4 linked regions of the Homo sapiens genome follow. The protein of the gene in region 4 purifies or fractionates together with the protein of the main gene of each other region. This does not show direct contact. Each region holds a gene or a part of one and is shown on either strand. Other genes may lie near its edges.

Region 1 (7,025 bases), on a different chromosome or scaffold from region 4:
ATAGTACAAGAAAGTGGGGAAGAAAGGCCGGGCGGGGTGGCTCACGCCTGTAATCCCAGCACCTTGGGAGGTCGAGGCGGGTGGATCACCTGAGGTCGGGAGTTCAAGACCAGCCTGGCCAACATGGTGAAACCCTGTCTCTACAAAAATAAAAAAATTATCCGGGCATAGCTACTGAGGAGGTTGAGGTGGAAGAATCACTTGAACCCGGGAGGTGAAGGTTGTAGTGAACCAGGATTATGGCATTACACTACAGCCTGGGCAACAGAGCGAGACTCTTGTCTCCAAAAAAAAAAAAAAGAGGCCAGGTGCGGTGGCTCATGCCTGTAATCCCAGTACTTTGGGAGGCCAAGGCGGGTGGATCACCTGAAGTCAGAAGTTCGAGACCAGCCTGACCAACATGGAGAAACCCCGTCTGTAGTAAAAATACAAAATTAGCCGGGGGTGGTGGGTGCCTGTAATCCCAGCTACTTGGGAGGCGGAGGCAGGAGAATCACTTGAACCCGGGAGGCCGAGGTTGCGGTGAGCCGAGATTGCGCCATTGCACTCCATCCTGGGCAACAGCAACAATAAAAAACGGGGAATATAGAGGGGAAAAGTTTACCCGTTTTTGGGGAGCAGAGGGGTAACATAAACTACATTTGGGCTTGTGGGGCTGTTGTTGGTTTTGTCCTTTCCTAGTCTCTTCCCTATCAAGATTGGCTTCATGGAAGGTAGGATGAAGTTTTGATGGTCATGTTGGATTCCCTAGGAATGCATCTGTTGAGTCATTTACTTGAGAGCTGTCTTTTTTTTCTTTTGAGACGGAGTCTCGCTCTGTCTCCCAGGCTTTATTGAAGTGGCACAATCTCGGCCCACTGCAACCTCCGCCTCCAGGGTTCAAGCGATTCTCCTGCCTCACCCTCCCGAGTAGCTGGGACTACAGGCATGTGCCACCATGCCATGCTAATTTTGTATTTCTTTTTTAGTAGAGACACGGTTTCTCCATGTTGGTCAGGCTGGTCTCGAACTCCCGACCTCAGGTGATCCGCCCACCTCAGTCTCCCAAAGTGCTGACATTAAGGACCTGAGCCACCGCGCCTGGTCAAGAGCTGTCTTTTTTTTGAGACGGAGTCTTGCTCTTGTCGCCCAGGCTGTAGTGCAATAGCGCGATCTCGGCTCACTGCAACCTCCATCCCCTGGGTTCAAGCGATTCTCCTGCCTCAGCCTCCAAGAGTAGCTGGGATTACAGGCATCCGCCACTATGCCAGGCTAATTTTGTATTTTTAGTAGAGATGGGGTTTCGCCATGTTGGCCAGGCTGATCTCGAACTCCTGACCTCAGGTGATCCGCCCGCCTCGGCCTCCCAGAGTGCTGGGGTTACAGGCGTGAGCCACTGAGCCCGCTGAGAGCTGTCCTTTTAAAACACCAGATCCTCATCTCTAGCTAGCTTATTCTGCTAGTTAGTGAAGAACAGGGAAGGGAGCATGTGTGGAATGAACTTTTTACTACGGTCTTGTTAGGAAAAAAATAGGTAGTAGTAAATTAACGTTGTTAATAAGTTTAGAAGTATTTAGATTAACTACCAGTTCTTTGACTGTAGGCCAGTAATTTTCCATTGCCGTTTCAGTTAATGGACTAACTTTCTGGAGTAAAGTTTATTTTTCTCCTTCTTAAATGCATAGACAGAACTGAGTAACGTAGTGTTAAAAATCCCTTCTACGACTGGGCTCTGTCCCCCAGGCTGGAGTGCAATGGCGTGGTCTTGGCTCACTGCAACCTCCGCCTCCCAGGTTCAAGCGGTTCTCCTGGCTCAGCCTCCCAAGTAGCTGGGACTACAGGCGCGTGCCACCACACTCGGCTAATTTTTTGTATTTTTAGTAGAGACGAGGTTTCACCATGTTGGCCAGGATGGTCTTTATCTCCTGATCTCAGGTGATCTGCCCACCTCAGCCTCCCAAACTGCTGGGATTACAGGTGTGAGCCACCGCACCCAGCCAATTTTTGTGTTTTTGGTAGAGACAGGGTTTTACCATGTTTGCCAGGCTGGTCTTGAACTCCTGACCTCAGGTGATCTGCCTGCCTCGGCCTCCCAAAGTGTTGGAATTACAGGCGTGAGCCACCACACCCGGCCTGATTGTTTTTTTTTTTCATGGATGACTGTAAGGGTGACTGATACTGCAGGCATATTTTTTCTTTATATTTCAAGAACACTGTGTACACAAACAGTAATGACAAGCATGGAGTAAAGGCTGCAGTTTTATTTTTATTTATTTTTTTGAGACAGTCTTGCTCTGTCACCTAGGGTGGAGTGTAGTGGTAGGATCTCGGCTCACTGCAGCCTCTGCCCCCTGGGTTCAAGCGATTCTCCTGCCTCTGCTTCCCGAGTAGCTGGGACTACAGGCGCCCGCCATCGCACCTGGCTAATTTTTGTATTTTTAGTAGAGATGGGGTTTCACCATGTTTGCCAGGCTGATCTCTGACTCCTGACCTCAGGTGATCCTCCCGCCTCAGCCTCCCAAAGGGCTAGCATTACAGGTATGAGCCACTGTACCTGGCCTAAATTTTTAATTTTTTAATGGGCACATATTAGGTGTATGTATTTATGGGAAGGCTAAATTAAAAAAAAATTTTTTTTTGAAACAGGGTCTTGCTTTGTGACCCAGGCTGAAGTGCAGTGTCGCCATTATAGCTTACTGCAGGCTCGACCTCCTGAGTTCCAGTGACCCTCCTGCCTCAGCTTCCCTAGTAGCTGGGACTGTTGCACCGGCCTAATTTTTGTGTTTTTTTTTTTTTTTTTTTTTTTTTGTGGATTTGAGGTCTCTATGTTGCCCAGGCTGGTCTTGAATTCCTGGACTCCCACCTTGGCCTCCCAAAGTGCTGGGATTACAGGTGTGAGTCACTGCTTCTGGCCTAAACTTTACATATGTGTATATGACATTATGCAGTACCTCAGTTCACAGCCCACGTTGACAAAAGTTTTTAATTTATGTAACAAGATTGAAGCAGGTAGAGCGTTACTCCCATTTTCTGGTTCAAGAAAGTGAGTTTGAGAGAGAGATTTTTTTATGATCATGTGGCTAATCAGTTATTAAATGGTAAAGCCAGAACTTAGTGTCTGCTGACCTTTAGATCGGTACACTTACTCTCAGCCACTCAAAAGACCTCTGTGAAGTAAGGTGGTGCCTTTCAGGGGAGTAGGGGGTGAGTAGCGTATGCTTGATGCTTGTTCTTTAACAATTCTAATAGCATCTACTTCACATCTTGATGTTTGTGATGACTGATATCCATGGTGAATTGTAGACAAAATCTTTTCACTTTCCTAAAGAAACCTGATGGTTTTTTTCAGAGATAAAATCCCATCTCAAGGCACAGCGAAATTAAAATGAGGTGAAGTTTAGGTACTCTCAGAATGTTTATTCGCATACAGATTCTTAAAAAACATGATTTATTGTAGGCAGATGTCACCTCTTTAAGCAAAAGAAAAAAACAACCAAAAAAAGAAAAGCCCCAGCCGGGTTCCGCGGCTCAAACACCTGCAATCCCAGCACTGTGGGAGGCCGAGGTGGGCGGATCACCTGAGGTCAGGAGTTTGAGACCATCCTGACCAACATGGTGAAAACCAGTCTCTACTAAAAATACAAAAATTAGCTGGCCTGTGATGGCTTGTGCCTTTAGTCCCAGCTACTGAGGAGGCTGAGGTGGGAAATCGCTTGACCCTGGGAGGTGGAGATTGCAGTGAGCCCACATCGCACCATTGCACTCCAGTCTGGGCCACAGAGGGAGAGCCTGTCTCAAGAAAAGAAAAGCCCCGTAGTTTATCATAATGTCTGTACTGGGATATGGCTGATGCTATGCATTTCTGTAAAGTAGCTTTAAAATATTTTCTCCTCTCACTTTTATCTTTTTCCTTTTTTTTTTTTTGAGACAGGGTCTCACTTGGTCACCCAGGCTGTAGTGCAGTGGTGCGATCTTGGCTCACTGCAGCCTCTACCTTCCAGTCTCAGGTGATCCCCCCACCTCAGCCTCTTAAGTAGCTGTTTTTTTTGTTTGTTTGTATGTTTTTAAATTTTATTTATTTATTTATTTATTTATTTATTTATTTATTTTTTGGAGAGATGGAGTCTTGCTCTGTCACCCAGGCTGGAGTGCTGGAGTACAGTGGCGCGATCCACCACTCCCAGCTAATTTCTTTTGTGTTTTAGTAGAGATGGGGTTTCACCATGTTGCCCAGGCTGGTCTTGGAATTCCTGGACTCAAGCAATCTGTCAGACTTGGCCTCCCAAAGTGCTGGGATTATAGGCGTGAGCCACCACCCCCGGCCACCTTTGTCTTAGTGAATGCTATTAAGTTGTTAGGTTAGTGATGTAGTCATACAACTTTTTTTTTTTTTTGAGATGGATTTTCCCTCTTGTCATTCAGGCTGGAGTGCAGTGGCGTGATCTTGGCTCACTGCAGCCTCCGCCTCCTGGGCTCAAGTGATTCTCCTGCCTCAGCCTCCCGAGTAGCTGAGACTACAGACTTGGGCCATCATGCTTGGCTAATTTTTGTATTTTTAGTAGAGACAGAGTTTCACCATATTAGCCAGGCTGGTCTTCAACTCCTGACCTCAGGTAGTCCGCCTGCCTCAGCCTCCCAAAATGCTGGGATTATAGGTGTGAGCCACCGCACCCGGCCAGATATAGACATACAACTTCTAGGAGGGACAAAGGTTGGCATATGATTCACCAGTGTTGTTCCGGGTGGTTGGCTAGATAGCTGTCTAATGGAATCCATTAAGGAGTAGGAAAGAGCAGCAAGAAAAATGGCTATTTTCACTATTTTTGAAATGGTCAGTTAACAGTTTGAGATAGATACATATACTTTTTTGAGACAAGGTCTTGCTTTGTTGGCCAGGCTTGGATTGCATTGATGCAGTAACGATTCACTGCATCCTCAACCTCCCAGGCCCAAATGATCATCCCATCTCAGCCTCCCACTTAGCTGGGCCCACAGCTGTGCACCACAATACCTGGATAATTTAAAAGAACTTTTTTTTCTTTTTCTTTTTCTTTTTTCCCGAGACAAGATCTCAGTATATTACTCAGGCTGGGATGCAGTGTCACATTTATGGCTCACTGCAGCTTTGACCCCCTGGGCACCTCAGCATGCCAAGTAGCTGGGGCTACAGAAGTATACCACCACTTCTGGCTAATTTTTGTAGAGACAGGATTTTACCATGTTGCCCAGGTCTTGAACTCGAGCTCAAGATTCACCTGCCTCGGCCTCCCAAAGTTTTGCGATTACAGGCGTGAGCCACCATGGCTGGCAAAAAAATTTTTTTGGTAGAGGCCTGGTCCCAGCGGATTGCCCAGGCTGATGTTGAACTCCTGAGCTCATGTGATCTTCCCACCAGGTAGCTGGTACCGCCATGACCAGCTAATTAAAACTTTTTTTTTGTGGAGACGGGATCCCACTGTGTTGTCCAGGTAACTCCTGGGTTCAAGCGATCCTCCCACTGTGGCCTCCCCAAAGTGCAGGGATTATAGGCATGAACCACTGCGCCCGGCCAGCTTGATATATTTAGGTATTGATATATCCAAATTGACGAATTGGTTGCCAACAGAACCTCATGGTTCTCTGACTAAATGTTAATGCTAGTCATGGCCCTAAGAACAATTTCAGATGTTCATTTAAATTTATTAAATTGTAGCAAATAATAATGAAAGTCACCATAATTTAACATCCACATGAGTATATCTTGAAAAGACAGACTAATTCATCAGCTACAACAGCAGGCATAAACTGGGATTGTCCTGGGCAACAAACTTGCCTTGTGGTCACCCTACTTAATGGCCATTTGTTACTAGATTTTGTCATTTAGACTCATACAACAGTTTCCTAAACGTTGTCCAGCTTTTTATCACAGAGATAGCTTAGATCTACGTCTCTAGGAGGTTGAATTTTTTTTTTTCAAATGAAGTTAGCCTTTGGCAGAATATAAGTCAAAGGAAAAGTGAAAATTTCCTCCTCCTAGCTCCCTCCCCCACAAATGGGAACGTGCTAGTTAAGGATGTGGTAGTTGCTGAAAATAGAGCTTGCTGGCATTCCAAATCCTCTGATGGTGTCAACACCTAGTGTGTTGGTTTTCTTATGGCTACCTTGAGCCAGTTCTGTGTTTAAAAATATAATAGACCTAGGTGTTGGTAGCAGTGTCCTAAGCTCAGAGCTTTCCCTACATACATTTTATTTTTTTATTTTTACAAGTGTCTTTCATACCAAATACCCACATAAAAATTTAAAGGCTCACCCATATCTTGTTACAACTGTTATGTTTAGAATGCCAAACTGTGTAGTTCAGACCATATGACCATGATCCTGGCTTATCTCTTCTGAAATTTTTATCTTGAATTTATTGCCCTTCCAACAATCTACCATAGTAGCTGGACGGATCTGTTGTTGGTGGGCTTGATTTGTGATCAGATCAGGATTTTATCGAGCTAAAGCAATATGAAATGTGTTTAACTCTTCATTCATATCTAAAGTTTGAAGGAGATGCATTACTGTAAGAGTTATGACAGTATTTCATCATTTGGCAGATGTGGTAAATCTGCCATCACAGAATGCACAGGAATCACTGGGTTCCTTATCTTTCAAATGGGGATTAGTGATGTCTCTCTTGCCTACTAATTTGCAGGGTGGTTATGAAATTTTGGGCTTTTGTAAACTGTAAAGTGTAATACTTGTCGGTACTATTTGTTGTGAAACATTCTTATCTAATGTGAAAGGTCAGATAATTGTTTTTGTTACTGCTGTGCTAGGATCATATTAGATGATAACCTACCTTTTTGAGTTATTCTTAGCAAGTGTAGTCTTCTGGGCTTAGTCCTTATGTAAGATATGCACAAAGAAATATTCTCAAAATCCTTAATCTTACATCTGTAAATTTGCATATCCAAAGTAAAGGTCGTCCAGATTATTCCCAAATAATAATTTTGTCATGTTGAGCTGGTATATAGTTGTTTTGATATTAATTTTAGATTAATAAGAGACTTTCTCCTTAGCAA
Region 2 (7,401 bases), on a different chromosome or scaffold from region 4:
ACACTAAGGAGGGAACAGTTGATTCCGGTGCGGGTGGAGGAAGAGTGGCAGTCAGACGAGGCTTCAAACGGCCAGTGAGCTCTGGGCTGAGCCATGGAGCATAAGCAAAGGATCTCCAGGTGGAAGAGATCTGTCTCCAGGTGGAGGCTGCAACAGGCAGGGAGGGTTAGAGTTTGGGGTCTACGTGCAGGGGCGGGGAGGGTTAGGGTGTGAAGGAACTGGCACTCCAAACTAAGGGCTTCTAGCTTTATCTTTTAAGCCACCAGAGAGGTCAAGAAAACGTGTCTTTTTTCTGCACAAAGATTTTAAATCAGAAGGGATACAATTAGATGTGCATTTACAGAACAGAACTCCTGCTGGAGTGTGGAAAGAGGGAAGAGATGGGAAGCGGAGAGTGAGAGAGGCAAGAAATTTTCATAAAGTTTTTTCATAATTCTCTCATTTCTTTTACTTGAAATAGCACCATGGGCTGGGCGCGGTGGCTCACACCTGTAATCCCAGGACTTTAGGAGGCCAAGGCGGGTGGATCACCTGAGGTCAGGAGTTCGAGACCAGCCTGCTCAACAAGGCGAAATCCCACCTCTACTAAAAATGCAAAAAATTAGCTGGACGTGGTGGCGGCTGCCTGTAATCCCAGCTACTTGGGAGGCTGAGGTTGCAGTGAGCTGAGATGGCACAACTGCACTCCAGCCTGGGCAACAAGGGTGAAACTGTCTCAAAAAAAAAAAAAAAAAAAGAAAAAGAAAAAAAAAAAAAAAGAAATAGCACCATGGTCCGGGCGCGGTGGCTCACGCCTGTAATCCCAGCACTTTGGGAGGCCGAGGCGGGCGGATCACAAGGTCAGGAGATCGAGACCATCCTGGCTAACACGGTGAAACCCCGTCTCTACTAAAAGTACAAAAAATTAGTCGGGCGTGGTAGCCGGCGCCTGTAGTCCCAGCTACTCGGGAGGCTGAGGCAGAAGAATGGCGTGAACCCGGGAGGCGGAGCTTGCAGTGAGCCGAGATCGCACCACTGCACTCCAGCCTGGGCGGCAGAGTGAGACTCCGTCTCAAAAAAAAAAAAAAAAAAGAAATAGCACCATGATCTCAGACTCAACACATCCAGACTGAAACTCTGTCTGCTCAAAACCAATGCATCAACATAAACAGTATTATTTCCTTCCACATTTGAGACGTTCGTGTATCTCAACCTCTTTGTGGGCCTCGAAGTTGCAGAATTTGATAATAGATCCCAGCACAGAACTTTGCACACAGAAAATATTCGATGACAACTGGAGTGCCCTGGAGCCTTGTGATTATAGGAGCAGTACAATCGAGTGGTTAAGAGTAAGGGTTTTGAATCAGAGGGCCCGAGTTCAAACCCTGGCGCAGCCACTTTAGTGCATGAGACTGGTCACATCAAGTGACCCATCTAAGCCTCAGTTTCTTCATCTCTAAAATGGAAATTAATGGAAATTATAACATCACCTGCCTCAAGGACTGCAGACAAACGTCCACAAAGTGTCAAGCACATAGTAAATCCTCAATAAATACTGGTGGCTATGTACAACATCATTTATTCAGTGCCTACCAGGCACAGACCACGCACAACGCAACGGGATTTCCACCCTCTTCAATTTGCACCACACTTTTGTCCTTCCCATTTTATAGATAAGAAAACTAAGGCTCAACAGAGTCAAGCTTGTTCGAGGTCTTGGGAGCATCTCCCAGGGCATTAGAACTTTTGGAGGAAGAGCATTTAGTTCAGTAATGGTTCTCACCTGTGCGTGTGAGAGTGGAAGAGACCCCTCCCCCGCAACCCGAGCCATCTGGCAATGTTTGGAGATACTTTTGATCCTCACGACTTGGAGCATGGGGATACTGCTGGCATCTAGTGGGTAGAGGCCAGGAATACGGCTCAACTTCCTACATTGCACAGGGAAGCCCCCACTACCACCACAACCAAAAACTATCTGACCCCAAACATCAGTAGGGCCAACGTCGAGAAACCCTGCTCTAGACAGATCATTCTCCTCATCTTCCCATTTCTGGCCATCCGGATCTTAGATGAACACTTTCTAGCAAGGGGGCTCAGTCCCACCACGGGAAGCCCATGCAGAAGTTGTGCAGAAGTTCTTCTCCACCTGCCCTGCACACAGTAGGGACCAAAACCCATTTTAACAAGCCCCGCAGCCCAGAGCACCGGAAAAGGAAGGAAGGGCATCCATCCCCCATTGTTCAACTGTGTGCAGCTTGTGTTTCCAACAGGCACACACACATATTTTACAAATCCTAACGTCCCACGCCCCACAAACAGCTTTGTTAGAGATGGCGCTCAAAAAAAGATGCAGTTTAGATTTTTTTTTTCCCCCAGGACTCCCGTGTATCTACTGAAGGGTTTGCACACTTCTCAAAGGACCTCGCACCGGCCGCGGTGCTCTGACAACGACCACAAAAGAATCTGTGGGATTTCCCGGGGGAGCAAGCCCGTGGGCCGTGACCTCTGCGCGCTCAAAGCGTTCCCGGCGCTCCCCCGTAGCTGGCCCCACTCTCCCGCCCCCGGAGCCCGGGCTTCCAAGGCGACCGGGGCCCCCGGCCGTGCAGCCCGGCCCCCCGGCGCATGCCCACGCCGTATCCCCCTCGCCCGTCCCTCGAGGCGCCAGAGGAATCCGGCCCCGGGGCCTGTAGCCGGCGCCCACACCGGCCCGCCCCGACCCGCCCGCCGCGGCCCCAGCGCGCGTCCCCTCCCCCGGTCCGGCGCGGCCTGGGCCTCGGCCGGTGCAGGCCCGCGGGCGCCCCGCGGCCAGGCCAGGCGAGCTCAGGCCTGCCGCGGCCTACCCCGTCGGGCGCCGCCGAAGGCCCCCCACCGCCTCACCTGGATGCGGGCGGGCGGGCCCGGGGCTGCTCCGGGGCGGGCGGGAGGCGGCGGCGGCGCGGCGCTAACGGCTCCGCTCGGCCTCGGTAGCGGTGGCGGCGGTGGCGGCGACGGCGACGGCGGCAGCGGCTCCTCCTCAGCGCGCACGACCCGCTCCGGCCCGCGGCCCGGACACGCCCCCCCCGCGCGCGAGCCCATTGGCCGACGTCCGCCACGGCGCGCTGCTCATTGGCCGGCGTAGCTGTCGCGGCGCTCCGGGGCGCGCGGGAGAGGCGGGACTTCCGGTCGGCGCCGCCTGCGAAGTGCTCCGCGGCCGGCGGAGACGCGGGCAGCCAGCGATGGCCGCGGAGGGGGCGAACTGGGTTCCGGCCCTCGGAGGCTGACGGAAGGCGGTGGCTGAGGAGCGGCGCCTCTGGTTGAGCGCTCGCCGTGTGTCCCGCACCTGTCTGTCCTGCCGCCGCCCGGTAAGGTAGGAAAGGTCAGCGCGCCGGGGTTACGGGTACAGAACCTGGGTTCGAATCCCGGCCCCGACGTTTCCGCACTACGTGCCGTTGGGCAGGAGCTGACGTCACCTTGCCGGGCCTCAGTTTCCTTCTCTGGTGCGCTGAGGAGGCGGGGCATGGAACGTGGTCAGCGCTTCATCGGTGCTGGCTCTTTGAGCAAGCCAGTTCCCGAAGGCTCAGCATCTCATTCATTCATTAAAATGTCATTGAGCGCCTACTGTGTGTCAATCACTGTATGGGCAGTGAGCAGAAAAAAAATACCTGGTCTTATTGGGCTAACATTCTAAACCAGCGCTGGCCTAGAATGCCCTAGTAGAAATACATGCAAGCTACATGTTTAATTTTTTTTTATGTAAAGATGGGCTCTGGTTCTGTTGCCCAGGCTGGTCTCGAACTCCTGGACTCAAGCGATTCTCCTGCCTCCGCCTCCCAAAGAGCTGGGATTACAGGCATGCCTGCACTCTGCCTAATTTTTTCTTTTTTTTTTTTATGATCTGAAAATAATAGTCTTTTTATTTTTATTTATTTATTTATTTATTTGAGACGGAGACTCGCTCTGTCGCCAGGCTGGAGTGCAGTGGCGTGATCTCCGCTCACTGCAACCTCCGCTTCCCAGGTTCAAGCGATTCTCCTGCCTCAGCCTCCTAAGTAGTTGGGCCTACAGGCGCTGCGCCACCACAACCAGCTAATTTTTGTATTTTTAGTAGAGACGGGGTTTCACCGTGTTGGCCATGATGATCTGTATCTCTTGACCTCGTGATCTGCCCGCCTCAGCCTCCCAAAGTGCTGGGATTACAGGCTTGAGCCACTGCGCCTGGCCTACAATTTTGTTTTTCTTTTTTTTTTTTTTTTTTTGAGACAGGATCTCACTCTGTCACCCAATTTGGAGTGCGGTGGTATGATCACAGCTAACTGCAGCCTCAACTTCCCCAGCTCAGGCAATCAATCCTCCGGCTTCAGATTCCTGAGTAGCTTAGACTACAGGATGTGCCACTATGCCTGGCTAATGTTTTATTTTTTTGTAGCGATGAGGTCTTGCTGTATTGCCTAGGCTGGTCTCAAACTTCTAGACTTAAGTGATCCTCCTGCTTTGGCCTCCCAAAGTGTTGGGATTACAGGCGGGAGCCACGGTGCCCAGCCTGTTTCTTTTTTTAATCATATTTTCTTAGAAGTTTTTTTTTTTTTTTTTTTTTTTTTTGGAGACAGGGTCTCACTCTGCTGTGCAGGCTGGAATGCAGTGGTGTGATCTCAGCTCACTGCAACCTCTGCCTCCCTATTCAAGTGATTCTCGTGCCTCAGCCTCCCAAGTAGCTGGGATCACAGGCGTGCAACATCACACCCAGCTAATTCTTGTGGTTTTAGTAGAGATGGGGTTTTGCCATGTTGGCCAGGCTGGTCTCAAACTCCTGGCCTCAAGTGATCCACCCACCTCGGCCTCCCAAAGTGCTGGGATTACAGGCATGAGCCACCACCCGGCCTAGGAAAGCTTTTTAGAGATTGGGTCTCACTGTGTTGCCCAGGCTGGAGTGCAGTGGCTGTTCACAGGTGCAATCATCCCACAGGTTTAACTCCTGACCTCAAGCAGTCCTTCTGCCTCAGGCTCCCAAGTAGCTGGGATTATAGGCACGTGCCACCACACCTAGCTCAATTAAATGTTAAATTTAACATTTAATTGTTAAATTTTATAGTAGCCAGCATTCTGGGTCATCACGGTGCAATAGAAGTATAAACAAAGCAGGCCAGGCACAGTAGGTCACGCCTGTAATCCCAGCACTTTGGGAGGCCGAGGCGGGCAGATCACCAGGTCAGTAGTTCGAGACCAGCCTGGCCAACATGTTGAAACCCCAGTCTCTACTAAAAATACAAAAATTAGCTGGACGTGGTGGCAGGAGCCTGTAATCCCAGCTACTCGGGAGGCTGAGGCAGGAGAATCGCTTGAAACTGGAAAGTGGAGGTTGCAGTGAGCCGAGATCCCGCCACTGCACTCCAGCCTAGGTGAAAGAGGGAAATTACATCTCAAAAAAACAGTATAAGCAAGCCACAGATTTGTCAGCGAGGTATGTAATTTAAATTGGTACATTGTTAGCCATGTTTAAAAATAAGTAAAAAGAAACGGGTGATGTTAGTTGTAATGTGTTTTATTTAACTCAGTAGGTTGAATATGTTATTATTTAAACATGTAGTCAATATTTTAAAATACAGGATGTTTTGCATCTGTTATCTTTCCAAAATAGAAGATACTTTGTGTCCTTTTTCTTTCCTGCATGCTTTTTTTTTCTTATTTTTTTGAGACAGAGTCTCACTCTGTTGCCAAGGCTGGAGTGCAGTGGCGGGATCTCGGCTAACTGCAACCTCCCCATCCCGGGTTCAAGCGATTCTCCTGCCTCAGCCTCCCGAGTAGCTGCGATTACAGACATTTGCCACCATGCCCGGGTAATTTTTTGTGTTTTTAGTAGAGACAGAGTTTCACCATGTTGCCCAGGCTGGCCTCGAACTCCTTACCTTAAGTGATCCACCCGCCCTGGCCTCCCATAGTGCTGGGATTACAGGCGTGAGCCACCGCGCCTGGCCCCTGCCTGCTTTTGAAATCTAGTATGTATCTTATACTCCACAGCACAGCACAGCACCGCACATCTCCAGTCGGACTGGCTACATTTCAAGGGCTCAACCATCACGCGTTACCAGTGGCTACTGCATCAGACTGTGCAGTGCTAGATGGGGAGTCAGAAGAGAAACCAAGTGATTTCCATGTCAAGTGGTGAACAGGCTAAGAAGAAAAGTAAATTGGGGAAAGAGCATGGGGAATGTGGGGGTTGCTGTTTGAAAGAGGATGGTTGGGAAGGCTGAAGAGCTGTCATTCGCAGAGGGACCCAAAAGAGGTGAGAGCACTGAACAAATAGTTACATTCTTCATTGTCTGCCGCAGTGCTGTCCAGAAGAGCTTCCCACGATAATGGGCATGTTCCATATCAGCACCGTCCAATTCAGTAGCCCCTGGCTCCATGGGGTTTTCTCTCTTTGTTTTTTTCTGTTTGTTTTTTTTTTTAAGACAGAGTCTCACTCTTTTGCCAAGGCTGGAGTGCAGTGGTGTGATCTTAGCTCACAGCAACCTCTGCCTCCTGGGTTTAAGCGATTCTTCTGCCTCAGCCTCCTGAGTAGCTGGAACTACAGGCATGCACCACCACGCCTGGCTAATGTTTATATATATATTTTTTGCTTTGTTTTGTTTTGTTTTGAGATGGAGTCTTGTTCTGTCGTCCAGGCTGGAGTGCAGTGGTGTGATCTCGGCTCACTGCGAGCTCCATCTCCCTGGTTCACGCCATTCTCCTGCCTCAGCCTCCCGAGTAGCTGGGAATACAGGCGCCCACCACCACACCCGGCTAATTTTTTCATGTATTTTTAGTAGAGACGGGGTTTCACTGTGTTAGCCAAGATGGTCTCTATCTCCTGACCTCGTGATCTGCCTGCCTTGGCCTCCCAAAGTGCTGGGATTACAGGCGTGAGCTGCAGCGTCCGACCTATATTTATATTTTTATTTATTATTATTATTATTATTATTATTATTATTATTATTATTATTATTATTTTGAGATGAAATATTGCACTGTCGCCCAGGCTGGAGTGCAGTGGTTTGATCTCGGCTCACTGCAACCTCCGCCTCCTGGGTTCAAGTGATTCTTGTGCCTCAGCCTCCCAAGTAGCTGGGACCGCCTGCTACCACACCTGGCTAATTTTTTTGTATTTTTAGTGGAAACAGGATTTCATCATGTTGACCAGGTCAGTATTGAACTCCCAACTTCAGGTGATCCACCAACCTCGGCCTCCCAAAGTGCTGGGCTTACAGGCATGAGCTGTTGCACCTGGCCTCCATGTGTGTTTTGTAGGGTTTTTTTTTTTTTTTTGCACTTGGCACATGGTTGGTACCATTAAAGAACTGACTTTCTGGCCAGACAACGGTGGCTCATGCCTGTAATCTCCAGCACTTTGGGAAGCCAAAGTGGGAGGATAACTTGAGGCCAGGAGTTCAAGACCAGCCTGGGCAA
Region 3 (7,025 bases), on a different chromosome or scaffold from region 4:
ATATCTCTATCAGGTGAAGTAAAAGGTAGGTGATAGTAGTTACTGGCAGTCTAGAATGGAAGTGAGTTAATGTAATATCCAGCATTTTTATCAAATAATACTCACCAACATCACCTTAACTACCTGAACAGCATCTACCAATGATACCCACAGGTGTCCTGGAGATCTTGAAATCATCTCAGGTAGAGGAAGCTTTCAGAACCACAGAGCTTAGTTACATTTTCTTTCAAAAGGCCAAATTCTCCAAAAACGTCCTATGCAAACATCCTCGATTTCTTCCATAGGTTTTATGATAAGATCTGTAGAATGCAAAATATTGGATTAGACATTAAGCAGTATCCAAGTCATGTATAATCCTATGAGCAGAATGTCCTTTTGTTTCCTTCATGTTGGGGATAAAATTTTTTATTAGTATTGCCATATCATTTTATTCATTCATGATTAAGTCAATAAAAATTTCAGCTGGGGCCATGGTTGGCCAGGTGTGGTGGCTTATGCCTGTAATCTCAGCACTTTGGGAGGCTGAGGTGAGTGGATCACTTGAGGCCAGGAGTTCGAGACCAGCCTGGCTAACATGGTAAAACCCTGTCTCTACTAAATAATACAAAAATTAGCCAGGCGTGGTGGCGCATGCCTTTAGCCCCAGCTACTAGGGAGGCTGAGGCAGGAGAATCACTTGAACCCTGGAGACAGACGTTGCAGTGAGCTGAGATCATGCCACTGCACTCCAGCCTGGGCAACAGAGTGAGATTGTGTCTCGAAAAAAAAAAAAAAATTCCACTGGCTGGGCACAGTGGCTCACGCCTGTAATTCCAGCACTTTGGGAGGCCGAGGTGGGAAGATCACGAGGTCAGGAGATTGAGACCATCCTGGCTAACACGGTGAAACCCCGTCTCTACTAAAAATACAAAAAAAAAAAAAAAAAAGCTGGGCATAGTGGCGTGCGCCTGTAATCCCAGCTACTTGGGAGGGTGAGGCAGGAGAATCACTTGAACCCGGGAGGCAGAGGTTGCAGTAAGCCGAGATTGCACCACTGCACTCCAGCCTGGGTGACAGAGCGAGACTGTCGCAAAAAAAAAAAAAAAAAAAAAAAAATTCCAAAACTCTTCCCACTTTGTGACGTGCAGTTCTCCAGGCACTGGAGCTATAACTGAACAAACAGCCTGAGTCCCTTCCCTCACACAGTTTAAATCCTAGTGGACAGAAGGCAGACCCTAAACCAATATTTAATGTGTCATTTTTTATCTTTTTTCTACATGAGCAACCCAAATACACCCGTTTAGTGCCAGAAATCTCTTTGTGTTTTCACCTCGTTCTGGTTCCTGGTTCTGCCAGTGACAGATGTACAGGGATGCAGCTTCTTCAGGGTTCTGAGATGCTTTCAGTGGGAAAGGGGCGCTTGGATCTACAATAGATAATAGAATTTTCTGTGTTTCTGCTCCCAAAGATGATCCTGCCAGGTACTAAGCTAGTAAATGAACACGCTGAGTTTCTCCTTGCAAATTTAAATAAGTCTTCTGCTTGCTTTTATCATCAAAAAGTCCTAACTCTATACCAAAATATGAGTTTTCTAATTTGCCATACCATAGAAGAAGGGTGTGTATGCAGTAAGTACAAAAGGAAAATAAATGTCTTCCTTTCAGTGAAAGAGCTCTTAGACCCACTGCTTTTTATTCACTGTGCTGCTTGAAGTGAGGTTAGAAAAGGAAAGCTCACTGGGCTAAGAGTCAGGAGACCCAGGTCTAGTCCTGCTTGTGCCGGTCACTATATGGGTGACTTTGGGAAAGTCATTTGCCTCTCCAGAGTTCATTCTCCTCAATTATAAATGAAAATGTTACAACTGAAAATTTATATATTATCAGCTCTAGTATGTTTCTAGTATTGCATTCGTTTCTCCACTTCGTAACTTTCATGGTTTTTCCAGTGGTCAGATTTGGGCAGAAAGCACTGATTCAAGAACACAGATTTCCAAGTAGAGAGGTGCAGGGTAAATAAACCTCCATGTAAGCCCGCGGTGAGCGCAGACTGTGAGTGACGAACACGGTGTCAGTGTAAGCTGGAGGTGGTGGGCCAGGAGGATTAAACAGGGTAAGGCAGCTTACCACTGTGCCTGGCGATGCGCAGAGTAAGTGCTCAGTAAACGGTAGCTGCTGTTATTAGCACTGTTATTATCATTGTCAGCAAAGAACACCTAGACAGCCTTGAGCACTGGAAGGCACCTCAGAGACTGTCACAGGGGTTCCTTGCTAGGATTCCAAGGACCCCAGTTTCAGCAGCTTCACGAACACCCTGAATTGCACACAGATGGCGTGTGTGTGCACATCCTATATTTCTTACACCTTTCAGTAGAGAGGGTCCCTAGTTTCCTTGGCTTCCTCAGAGAAAATGTAACAAATGAGCACAGTGCCTGGTCCAGAGGGTGGCCTACCTTAGGGCCAGGTGTGCTGACGGAGGTACCTTGAGCTGATACTCATTTCCCTCCCTCCTCAGAACTGTCTTCTCAACCACCTTCTCTCTCCTACAAAGATATGCCAAGTGCTCTTTAGGGACAGTACCAACACTTGACAAATTCAGCTCAGCATGAATGTCATTGAGCCCATGCCCCGTACCAAGGCCCAGGCTAGCGAGTGTAAGGAGTACAAAAACAAGTGGGTGTGGTCGCTGCCCTTGGGACTCACATTCTAGTGGAGAAGTCAAACAGACCCAGCTCAGATACAGAGCGGCGCAGGGCAGAGTGCTGAGTCTAGGATTACAGTGCAGGCTCATGGAAGGAGGTGGAATTTGTGCTGGGCCTATGTCAGAAACTCACAAGCAGGGAGAAGCACGTGGGGAGGTCAGCAGTCCAGGCAGAGGCAGGAGCATCATGTCAGCAGATCGGTGGGAAATCTGGTGGGACTGGAGTCTCTGGAGTGGAGACAGGGAGGAAACAGTGAAAGGAAGATCAGAGACAAGAGGGTAGGGCAGAGCTGTGGCTAGCTTCTGAATACTGAACCTGAGAGGTTTGAGTTTATCAGGTAAAGGAGGAGGACCCTTCACAGATGCTGTTCAGAGTCGTGGGATCCCGCTGGGAAGTGTGGCTGAGCTTTGCTGTGTTGTTCATCCACTTCTGTTTTCTGACTTGGTGTTAGCCACATTTTTTTATGGTAAAATTCAAAAACATAAAATTTACCATTTCAACCATTTTTACAGTGGCATTATCTAACATTCACAGTGTTATGCAACCATCACCACCATCTATCTATATAACTGTTTTAATCTTGCAAAACTAAAACTCTGTATCCATTAAACACCAACTCCCCAGCTCCCCTCCCAGCCCCGGACAACCACCATTCTACTCTCTGTTTCTGTGACTCTGACCAGTCTAGGTACCTCATGTGAGTGGAACCATGCAGCATTTTTCTTTGTGGCTGGCTTCATTCACTTAGGAAATGTCCTCAAGCTTCATGCATGTTGTAGCATGTGATGTGATTCCCTTCCTTTTCAAGGCTGACTATTCCATTGTGTAGCTAGACCACAGTTGGGTTATCCACTCATCTGCTCATGGGTGCCTGGCTTACTTCCACCTTTTAGCTATTGTGAATAATGCTGCAGTGAACACGTGGGTAGAAATATTTCTTCAACACCCTGTTTTAGTTCTTTTGGGTATATACTCAGAAACGGAATTGCTGGATCATATGGTAATTCTATCTTTAATTTTTTTGAAGAATCACGATTTTTTTTTTTTTTTTTTTTTGAGACAGACTCTCACTCTATCACCAGGCTGGAGTGCAGTGGCACGATCTTGGCTCACTCTGCAAGCTCCGCCTCCTGGGTTCAAGTGATTCTCCTGCCTCAGCCTCCTGAGTAGCTGGGATTACAGGCACCCACCACCACGCCTGGCTAATTTTTGTATTTTTAGTAGAGAAGGGGTTTCACCATGTTGGCCAGGCTGGTCTTGAACTCCTGACCTCAGGTGATCACCTGCATCAGCCTCCCAAAGTGCTGGGATTACAGGTGTGAGCCACCGCACCTGGCCCACTATACTCTTTATAGGAGCAGCTGCACCATTTCACATTCCCACCAGCAGTGCACAAGGGCTTCATTTTTTCCACATCTTTGTCAATATGTGTTATTTCTTTTTTTTTTTTTAATCATAGGCATCCTAATGGGTATGAGGTGGTTTAGCCAGATTTGAAAGAAGAAAAGTTTAAAGGGTGGCATAGGATAATTAACTTAATGTTTGGCATAAAGCCCTGCTTTTTTGCCATGCTGTATTTTTTTCTCTTGCTTTTGATCTAGAATTACTTACCTGTGTGTTTCTCTCTATGCAGATGAATCTATAAAATATACCATATACAATAGTACTGGCATTCAGATTGGAGCCTACAATTATATGGAGATTGGTGGGACGAGTTCATCACTACTAGACAGCACAAATACGAACTTCAAAGAAGAGCCAGCTGCTAAGTACCAAGCTATCTTTGGTAAGATACCCTGGAAGGACTCAACGCCTAGCAACCTTGAACTTTCTTACTTGTGAGAAGGACATAGTGGAATCTTAAAATTTCTCTGATAATTCTTCTTGAAAGTTTTCTTATGTTACTTCTGCAAAATATCTTTGTAATTTCCATATAATTCCTTTGTCATTTATTTATTTTTAATATGGAGATAATCACAGTATTTAATTTATGGATTTGTTGTGAAAATTAAATGAGTTGATATGTATAAAAAGCTTAGAACACTGCCTGGCACATAGTAAGTTCTATAAAAAGTGTTAAACTTTCATCATCATCATCATCAGTATTACTTCTCAGACCCAGAAGAAATAGCTGTGTCAGGCCCTCATCGAAGGAGATCCTGTAAAAGATAGAAGACTGTGCCCTCCACAGCACTTCTGTAATAAAATCAAGAGGGCTATCTCTTATAGGGTTCTATGGTGCAGCCCATAATGCTAATCCCAAAGTACAGTCTGGAAAAAGTCATGAGGCCAAAACGACTTGATTAAGAACTCAGCTTTCTAATTAACCATGGGATTGGCGCTTTTTTTTTTTTTTTCTGTAAAGGAACCAATAGTAAATGTTAGGCCCTGCTGGCTTTGAGGTCTCTTGGAACTACTCACCTCTCTTATTGTAGTGCAAAAGCAACCACAGACAATATGTACATGAATGAGCACGGCTGTGTTCCAATAAAAGTGGATTTACAAATGCTGGCAGGAGTCAGATTTGGCCCACAGGCCATAGTTGGCCAACCCCTGGTCTAACCCATTTGAAGGACAGCTTTTAAAATACCTAGAACAGAACTTGCGAATGGTCAGGGGCACCTGTGAGAATCTAATGAAACCCAGGATCTACCCCCTACAGAAATATTGACAAAATTTGGAAAATATCTTGGGAAGTTCTTGGACTGCTGACAATCTATAAGATATGGATAGAGAGAGAGCCACATCACAGAGGGCTGAGGAAAGAAGAGAGGTGGGAAGGAAGAATGAAATGTTTTCTTCCTTATATTCTGTTTAATGAGGTAGTGTGGGGATTAAGGAATTTTTTTTGTTGTGGTTGTTGTACATTTTCATTTGTTTCCTTTTATTATTTTTATGAAGGGCGAAGGGAAGGAACCAGTAGAAGGAGAGAGGTTATGGCTATTGGAGAAGAGGCAATGTCGGTCGGCAGTGGGGTGGAGTAAAGGAGGGGTTAGGGTCCAAAAACAGACCTTGAAGAGTATAGTTACCTCGTCGCTTGAAAGACAAGGAAGGCTTTGTAACTGAATGGGTTCACGCCTGCTGGACAATTCCTTGATTAAGTAAGAGGAAAGTGAACTGTTGGGCCGGGGTGGTGGTCAGGAGTTGAGCGGCTTTAACTCTGGCCAGATGTAAGCGGAGAATGTCTAAAAGGAACAAAAATGGTGGTTTTCCCTTTACACCCAGGAAGGTCTAATACCAACAGGATCACTGGCTAAGATTGACTAGAACACCCAACCTCGTAGCCACACAGGGGTTTTGTTCACAGAGCCATCAGCTGTGGCTCAGGGATGTGTCTACTAGGAGGAAGGAATGCCTTATTCTTTTTTGTTTTGTTTTTGAGACAACATCCTGCTCTGTGGCCCAGGCTGAAGTACAGGGGCACAGTCATGGCTCACTGCAGCCTCGAACTCCTGAGTTCAAGTGATCCTCCTGTCTCAGCCTCCTCAGTAACTGGGACTACAGGCATGTGCCACCATACCCAGCTAATTAAAAAAAATTTTTTTTTTGGTAGAGACAGGTTCTTGCTGTGTTGCCCAGGACTGGTCTAGAACTCCCGGGTTCAAGTGATCCTCCTGCCTTGGCCTCCCAAAGTGTTGGGATTATAGGCATGAGCCACCACGCCAGGCCGGGAATGCCCTATTCTAATTCACATAAAGACTCCATGTGGGCTAGCAGGCATGTGAAATGTCTGCCAGTGCATCAACAGCTATATAACTAAGAAGTTATCTTTTTCACTGTCTTCTGGTACTCTTCATTTCACTTGGGTTTTTTAGCAATTCAGGAAGCTGGAATGTTTGAATGGGTTTTAGCTTGATACCTTCTTCTTTTTCCCATTTGGCAGATAATACCACTAGTCTGACGGATAAACACCTGGACCCAATCAGGGAAAATCTGGGAAAGCACTGGAAAAACTGTGCCCGTAAACTGGGCTTCACACAGTCTCAGATTGATGAAATTGACCATGACTATGAGCGAGATGGACTGAAAGAAAAGGTTTACCAGATGCTCCAAAAGTGGGTGATGAGGGAAGGCATAAAGGGAGCCACGGTGGGGAAGCTGGCCCAGGCGCTCCACCAGTGTTCCAGGATCGACCTTCTGAGCAGCTTGATTTACGTCAGCCAGAACTAACCCTGGATGGGCTACGGCAGCTGAAGTGGACGCCTCACTTAGTGGATAACCCCAGAAAGTTGGCTGCCTCAGAGCATTCAGAATTCTGTCCTCACTGATAGGGGTTCTGTGTCTGCAGAAATTTTGTTTCCTGTACTTCATAGCTGGAGAATGGGGAAAGAAATCTGCAGCAAAGGGG
Region 4 (7,025 bases):
ATTTCAATTTTTTTCTCTGTGAGGTTTTGTGCAGATTTCGCCCTATTATATGCTTTTTGACAAACTGTTATATTTGTCAGAAAAGCTATCACTGCAGAATAATTTTCTCACCATGTTTTCTGACTTCCCTTTGCCGCCCCTGAAGCTTGCGACCCACTTGTCCTAATGTTAGTTGATTTATGTTCAAGGAATGAAAGTTGATTTTTAGGCCAATCGATTTAGGCTCCTTATATTAAACAGAATTTAGTAAATCAAGCAAATTTGCCATCAGCTTTTCTCTTTCTTCTTCAGCCCCTTCCCCTGGTCAGTTCTAATAATTATATCACTGGCTTTAAAGTTAATCACCATTTTTAGAGATCTTTTGAGACCTTTGCTAGAGGGAAAGGTTTTCCCTTTAGAGATCAGGAGAACATATCATTTGATATTTTGTAATCAGGAAAGGAGAAGTTGAGTATGTTTAGGATTTATTTAGAGATGGGGTCTCACTCTGTCACCCAGACTGGAGTGCAGTAGCACGGTCAGGGCTCACTGCAGCCTCGACCTCCTGGGCTCAAGCTATTCTCCTGCCTCAGTCACCTGAGTAGCTGGAATTACAGACATGTACCATCATGCTTGGTAATTTTTTGTATTTTTAGTAGAGACAGGGTTTTGCCATGTTGCCCAGGCTGGTCTCAAACTCCTGGACTCAAGTGATCTGCCCGCCTTGGCCTCCTAAAGTGCTAGGATTATGGGCATGAGCCACCACACCTGGCCAATTTAAATATATTTCTTTTTTTTTTTTTCTTGTTTGTTTCCATGCTAGTGAATACTATCTTATGGGGCATGGTGGGGAGGCAAGAATGAGGGTTAAAATAAATAGCCTTCTCCTTCCCTGCCTGTTTTAATGCTTGTAGAAATGGTGCGGGAAAGCCCGTTTAACCAGGGGAGGTTGAAGCATATATTCTGAAAGGAAATACAAGAAGGACTTCATGCTGGATTAAGGAAGTCACTTCTTAAATCAGTAGCTGTGGGCTGAAGCACTGATTACTCAACTCCTTTTTCTTGATGAGGTTCTCAGTACAGGTGCGAAGAGGGAGTGGTGAGAAAGGGTATACTAGAAACAGGTCTTAGAAACCTTAGTTCTTTGTATACTATCTCTGTAAGGCACGGTATAATGCATATTGAAGCATTTCTTTTTCAGGAAGATGAGTGTGCAGGCTGTACGGATGGAACCTTCAGAGGCACTCGGTATTTCACCTGTGCCCTGAAGAAGGCGCTGTTTGTGAAACTGAAGAGCTGCAGGCCTGACTCTAGGTTTGCATCATTGCAGCCGGTTTCCAATCAGATTGAGCGCTGTAACTCTTTAGGTATTTGGATGCTTTTTGTTTACTTAACAACCTGGAATGACTCTAATTCTAATCTCATATCATGTTATATTAGGTGATGGTGACAGTGTTTTAATATATTTCTTGCCAACGCTCATTAAGCTTTAAATCAGTAAAAATGTTGCATGGTGTATAAGAAAGTTGTTTTAAGAGGGGACATCTTAAAAAAGTATTAGGACGTGCGTTTGGGACTTATAAAGTGAATAATAGTGTGGTTTGTTTTTCTCTTCCTGTTGATGACAGACATTTAGTTTTCAGCAATACTAGTGGTAGAAATTGAAATGTAACCTTCTTTTTTTTTTTTACTGACTTCCCTCACAGTGTCTTGTTTACAGCAGTGAGTGTATCTTACAAAGAAATCAGCATTTTAGTGTAAGAAGTAGATTTCAACTGATTGCTGGAGGACAGCTCTCCTCATCATGTGTAATTGGTGGCAGTTTCCTGGTGCTGTTCCTTTCCACTTCTACATAATAGTGGAAAAGCATCTTGGGGCTTCAGCAGGTGCAAACAGGAAAGCCATCTTTATGAAAAACACTCTTATTATGTTGAAATAGTACTTTGGAATTTTCATTTTCTTTTCAAACTTGAAAGTGAAGCAACTTCAGATAAATAGTGAAATATTTGGGAAACATATTTTACTTGACAGATGCTTTTTACACATAATACTCTAAAGTGTGTTTTTAAATCTTGGAGGAAATGAAGTTGAAAATGAACAATAGCAATTTTTATAAGCCAAGTCAAATAGCAGTTAACCAAAGCCTACTTTCCACTTAAAGAAAAAATTTTGCATCAAAATACAAAAACATTTTAAAATGAAAAAATATTTATGGGAATACATATTGTAATAGTTTAAAAGAATTCTTTTCATTTACTTTTTTTAAAAAAATCTTTTCAGCATTTGGAGGCTACTTAAGTGAAGTAGTAGAAGAAAATACTCCACCAAAAATGGAAAAAGAAGGCTTGGAGATAATGATTGGGAAGAAGAAAGGCATCCAGGGTCATTACAATTCTTGTTACTTAGACTCAACCTTATTCTGGTAAGTTTAAAAAGAATGCAATAGGTATAGATAGTGCCATGAGGCAGGGACACATACCGGTGTGTGTGTGTGTGTGCGTGTGAGTGTGTGTGAAAGAAACTGCCATCTGCCTCTGAGTAGAGAAACTGGATGACTGTGGGTCAGGATTGAAAGGGAGATTTGCTTTTTATGACATACTCCTTTTAAGCTTTTGAATGTTGTCTCATGTTTCTGTGTCCAGAAAGGTGAATGATATTGGTACAATGGAATAGATATACAGAGGGTATCTGGGAAATCTTTGTGCATGTCTCAAACAACATAACTTGCAGTAAAGCCATTGGCTGTTATGTGCTGTATTTCTTTTAGTAGGTAAAGGCAGTCATAAAACTACTGTCTTTAAAAAAACGATTTTCAGTAGCAGCACTGCTGCCCTCATATATGCAATTTTTTCCAAAGTGGAACAACTTAAGATTTTTTTTTTTTTTTTTTTTTTTTTTGAGACAGAGTCTCACTCTGTCCCCCAGGCTGGAATGCAGCGGCACAATCTGGGCTCATTGCAACCTCTGCCTCCCAGGTTCAAGCGATTCTCTTGACTCAGCCTCCTGAGTAGCTGGGATTACAGGTGTGAACCACCACTTCTGGCTAACTTTCTTTTTTGTATTTTCAGTAGAGACGGGGGTTTCACCACGTTGGCCAGGCTGGTCTCGAACGTCTCACCTCAAATGATCTACCCGCCTTGGCCTCCCAAAGTGCTTGGGATTACGGGCATGAGCCACCACGCCCAGCCTTAACATTGCAAGGATCTTTAAGCTCTGGAAATTGAACCAAGAATCTTTAGGCTCTGAGGATTGTAGACTGGGCTAAATTGAGAGTAGCCTGCCAGTTCTGTAGCCATATGATAAGAATTAGGAAGTTAATATGGGATGTTAACATTTTTAAAGTAGGAAGAAGAATAAAGTGGCGGCCATTTTATTTGCAGAATACTTTGACAAAAACAAACCTTGTAGCATTGATATAATATTCTTTAGATTTCCTGATAAAAATCTATATTAGCTAAATTTTCTTTTTCTTTGATAACAGCAAGTTACTGCTGTCACTCGTTTATTTTTTTGAGAAGGAGTCTCGCTGTGTCGCCCAGGCTGGAATGCAGTGACGTGATCTCGGCTCACTGGAACCTCCACCTCCCGGGTTCAAGCGATTCTCCTATCTCAGCCTCCCAAGTAGCTGGGACTTCAGGTGCACTCCATCATGCCTGGCTAATTTTTGTATTTTTAGTAGAGACGGGGTTTCACCATATTGGTCAGGCTGGTCTCAAACTCCTGACCTCAGGTGATTCACCCGTCTCGGCCTCCCAAAGTTCTGGGATTGCAGGCATGAGCCACCGCACCTGGCCTGTTAGTCACTCATAAGTGATTTTAGCATTTAAAGAAATTTATTAATGTAATAGATCTTTGCAAAGGGGCATGGGGAGAGGGAAGTGGGGCACTGAATAGTGCTTGCCTCGGGAAGTCGTTTCCAAATGCTGTCCTCTGTTGTCTGTTTGTAATTTGACTGATATTTGTAGTCTCTCTATCAACTTTTGCAAAGAAGTTTTCTTTCTTAATATTCTGTTGGCACGTTGTTATCCTTTAACACTGCCAATCTGCCGTTTGCTTTCTCAGTATTATTGGTGTTGTCCTTAACATGGAAGGATCTGTAGGTCCTGATGATTGAACCATGGGTATCTTCACAGGGGTCCTGGTACCTGTGTTAATGAAAAACACAAATTGTTATGTTATTTGTTCTCCAGACTTTACTTATTTTCCTCTTCTAATTCTGTTAAAAATCTGTTTCTTGAAAAATATGTTTACAGCATGAAGAAAATTATCCTTTTTCTTTTGCAGCTTATTTGCTTTTAGTTCTGTTCTGGACACTGTGTTACTTAGACCCAAAGAAAAGAACGATGTAGAATATTATAGTGAAACCCAAGAGCTACTGAGGACAGAAATTGTTAATCCTCTGAGAATGTAAGTAGAAAACAAATTGCTATTTTGCCTTTACATGGTGTTCTATTTGCTGTTTTCTGGTATAGTAATTAATTTATACCTTGTCTTCATGTAATAAGAGATGGGTGAAAATTAGTTCTTATGGTAAAATATTACGTTTTTAAACCTTTGGTCCTTGTACTTTTTTGCTTATTTAATTTCTTAAATGTGGCCAAGGTGTAGAACATAGCATATTCCATGAAATGATTTAACCTATTTTGCTAGAGTAAACTATAATTTAGCAATTGCAGTATGTTTAGGAAAGCTAATACATAATACTTAGGATTCTTATCTTTTGAAATAGTTTATTCCAACACTTCTGCTACAAGTAATCATGCTTATTAGTTAAATTGGTGTAGTCTAGCTTCTTAAATCTGAAAGAAAAGGAGAAAGGGAAATTCTTTATAGAATAGCTAGTGTTTAATACTTTGGACTAGCAACAGATGAGATGTATTTTAGTACCATATTTTTTGGTTAAAGGAATATATTTGGCCTCTTTCCACCTGCCTTAAAAAGGTGATTCTTTTTCCATTTCCTACTTTAGGAATTATAAATATGTCTTTTTATGGCCACAGGAAGCAATTTGTAATGGTACAAGCACAAGTGACAGGAGATATCTAGTAAAGACTTTGAATAAGTGGTAGTAGTGATATGTGATAATGTCACATTATAAAATTTAAACTATGAAGAATTAGGACCATAGATCATAAAACAAATTTGTTCATTCAGGAATATAGAGAGAAAGTGATTTATTTAAAGTCCATATTAAGATAAATTTGAATCCTTTTATATACTGTTCTTATTTATCAATTAAAGTAAAAAATAGTTTGATATCAAATTTGAACCAAAAAAGCAGAATACTCAAATACAATGAGGATTCCAAATTATCTGCTATATCACATGACTAGGAAAGTAAATTATAAGAGAATAAATTTCCTCACTTATATCTTTTGCTTTCTTTAAATTCTGTAATGATTTCTCTAATGATCTTACTCTTTAAGATAATTGTGAATCTTGATTTTCACATCAACTATTTTGTCTTATGCAAATTTTTAAACATACGATTTTTTTCCCCCAAGTAATTGATACTGGAACAAGACAGGTCAAACCCGAAACTCTAAGGCATGTTAACACCTCCTTCCTAGAAGAGAGGAAGAATAAACATTCTTTGGATCCTATTGTTCAGCCAGTTAAGAATCATAGTTAATCACACTTTCTTACCCTGTCCACGGTAAGAAACTGGTCAGATGCCCTGTTGTGATCAGGATTCCCTGTGTCTGTAGCATTCATATCTGTATATAGCTGACTGGTTTTATTTGGTGCTGAAATCTCTGCTTTTCTTCAGAGACCCTGTCTTTTTAACCTTACTCATTTTGTATTCCCAGTGGCTGACAGGTTACGTTACTATGTAAGTGGTAGATTCTCAGTCTGTATTGGTTGCAGGAAACTAATGAGTGAATGAATAGTATAAAAAGTGGATATAAAATTAGCTAGTTCTGACTTGTCCTTAGTAAACTTATGGTAGCCGCCAAGTTCTCCTCTGAAGCCATTTTTAGAATTACAAATTTAAAGTGATATTAAACTGATTGAATGTGTCTTGCATTCAGACAAAGAAGAGAGAAAATGTCATCATTATGCCAATTGGTTTGATTGCAGATTTTAGATTTTCAGTTTCTTATAAATTCCCTTTCCCATTTCCCTTGGTGGCTGTTTCACACTTCAGTATTAAAAGGATATTCTCTCTCAAAATTGTATATTCTGCTTTATAAAGTAAATGCTTTAATTTCCCAAGCAAATATTATTTAAAAAATCAGTCACAGCAAACCTAAAAATTTTTTATCTTAGTGTATGACAGTTACTTGTAGAGCATATAATAGTGTCTAGGATAATTCTGGTTCTAGATCTTTAATTTTGCAAACTTCAAGAAGAAGCTTATCATTGTTTTCTTCAAAAATAATTGTCTAACCTATTGATTTATGACATACTGGAGTTGTATAAGAAATGTGTTGGCCAGGTGTGGTGGCGCACACCTGTAATCCCAGCACTTTGGGAGGCCGAGGTGGGCGGATCACTTGAGGCCAGGAGTTCAAGAGCAGCCTGGCCAACATGGTGAAACCCTGTTTCTACTAAAAATACAAAAATTAGCTGGATGTGGTGGTGCACGCCTGTAATTCCAGCTACTTTGGTGGCTGAGGCATGAGAATCTCTTGAGCCTGGAAGGCGGAGGTTGCAGTGAGCTGAGATCGGGCCACTGCACACTCCAGCCTGAGTGATAGAGTGAGACTCTATCTCAAAAAAAAAAAAGAAAAAAAGAAATATGTGATTAAGATGTGTTATATAATTTAATACATGCCAATATCAATTAATAGTTTTTTACTAACTTAGATATGGATATGTGTGTGCCACAAAAATTATGAAACTGAGGAAAATACTTGAAAAGGTGGAGGCTGCATCAGGATTTACCTCTGAAGAAAAAGGTGACCATCTTAACTTATATGCGTTAAAAATAACTGAAGAGCATATTCACATGTCAAAGTATTAGCTGAAATGTGTGTCTGTGTAGTTGGGGGGTTTTCTTTTAAATTAGAAATTTCTTTTTATGTGATATATGGTTAGCTCCT

What was found.
Region 1: the proteins of CYLD (region 4) and YWHAE purify together in Homo sapiens (affinity purification with mass spectrometry; 3 studies listed by BioGRID and IntAct, with this or other methods). This does not show direct contact.
Region 2: the proteins of CYLD (region 4) and ELAVL1 purify together in Homo sapiens (affinity purification with mass spectrometry, with the first as the bait; 2 studies listed by BioGRID). This does not show direct contact.
Region 3: the proteins of CYLD (region 4) and RIPK1 purify together in Homo sapiens (affinity purification with western blotting; 5 studies listed by BioGRID). This does not show direct contact.

What each region holds. Positions count from the first base shown.
Region 1 is NC_000017.11:1,390,199-1,397,223, reverse strand, and holds part of YWHAE (14-3-3 protein epsilon), read left to right. Parts: intron 1-7,025. UniProt on the Homo sapiens protein: Adapter protein implicated in the regulation of a large spectrum of both general and specialized signaling pathways. Binds to a large number of partners, usually by recognition of a phosphoserine or phosphothreonine motif.
Region 2 is NC_000019.10:8,002,639-8,010,039, forward strand, and holds the start of ELAVL1 (ELAV-like protein 1), read right to left. Parts: upstream 3,004-7,401; 5' UTR 2,857-3,003; intron 1-2,856. UniProt on the Homo sapiens protein: RNA-binding protein that binds to the 3'-UTR region of mRNAs and increases their stability.
Region 3 is NC_000006.12:3,106,493-3,113,517, forward strand, and holds part of RIPK1 (receptor-interacting serine/threonine-protein kinase 1), read left to right. Parts: exon of another isoform or gene 1-299; intron 300-1,309; exon of another isoform or gene 1,310-1,405; intron 1,406-2,809; exon of another isoform or gene 2,810-2,904; intron 2,905-4,310; coding exon 4,311-4,463; intron 4,464-6,560; coding exon 6,561-6,847; 3' UTR 6,848-7,025. UniProt on the Homo sapiens protein: Serine-threonine kinase which is a key regulator of TNF-mediated apoptosis, necroptosis and inflammatory pathways.
Region 4 is NC_000016.10:50,780,066-50,787,090, forward strand, and holds part of CYLD (ubiquitin carboxyl-terminal hydrolase CYLD), read left to right. Parts: intron 1-1,180; coding exon 1,181-1,346; intron 1,347-2,259; coding exon 2,260-2,401; intron 2,402-3,793; exon of another isoform or gene 3,794-4,124; intron 4,125-4,263; coding exon 4,264-4,386; intron 4,387-6,773; coding exon of another isoform or gene 6,774-6,789; coding exon 6,790-6,881; intron 6,882-7,025. UniProt on the Homo sapiens protein: Deubiquitinase that specifically cleaves 'Lys-63'- and linear 'Met-1'-linked polyubiquitin chains and is involved in NF-kappa-B activation and TNF-alpha-induced necroptosis.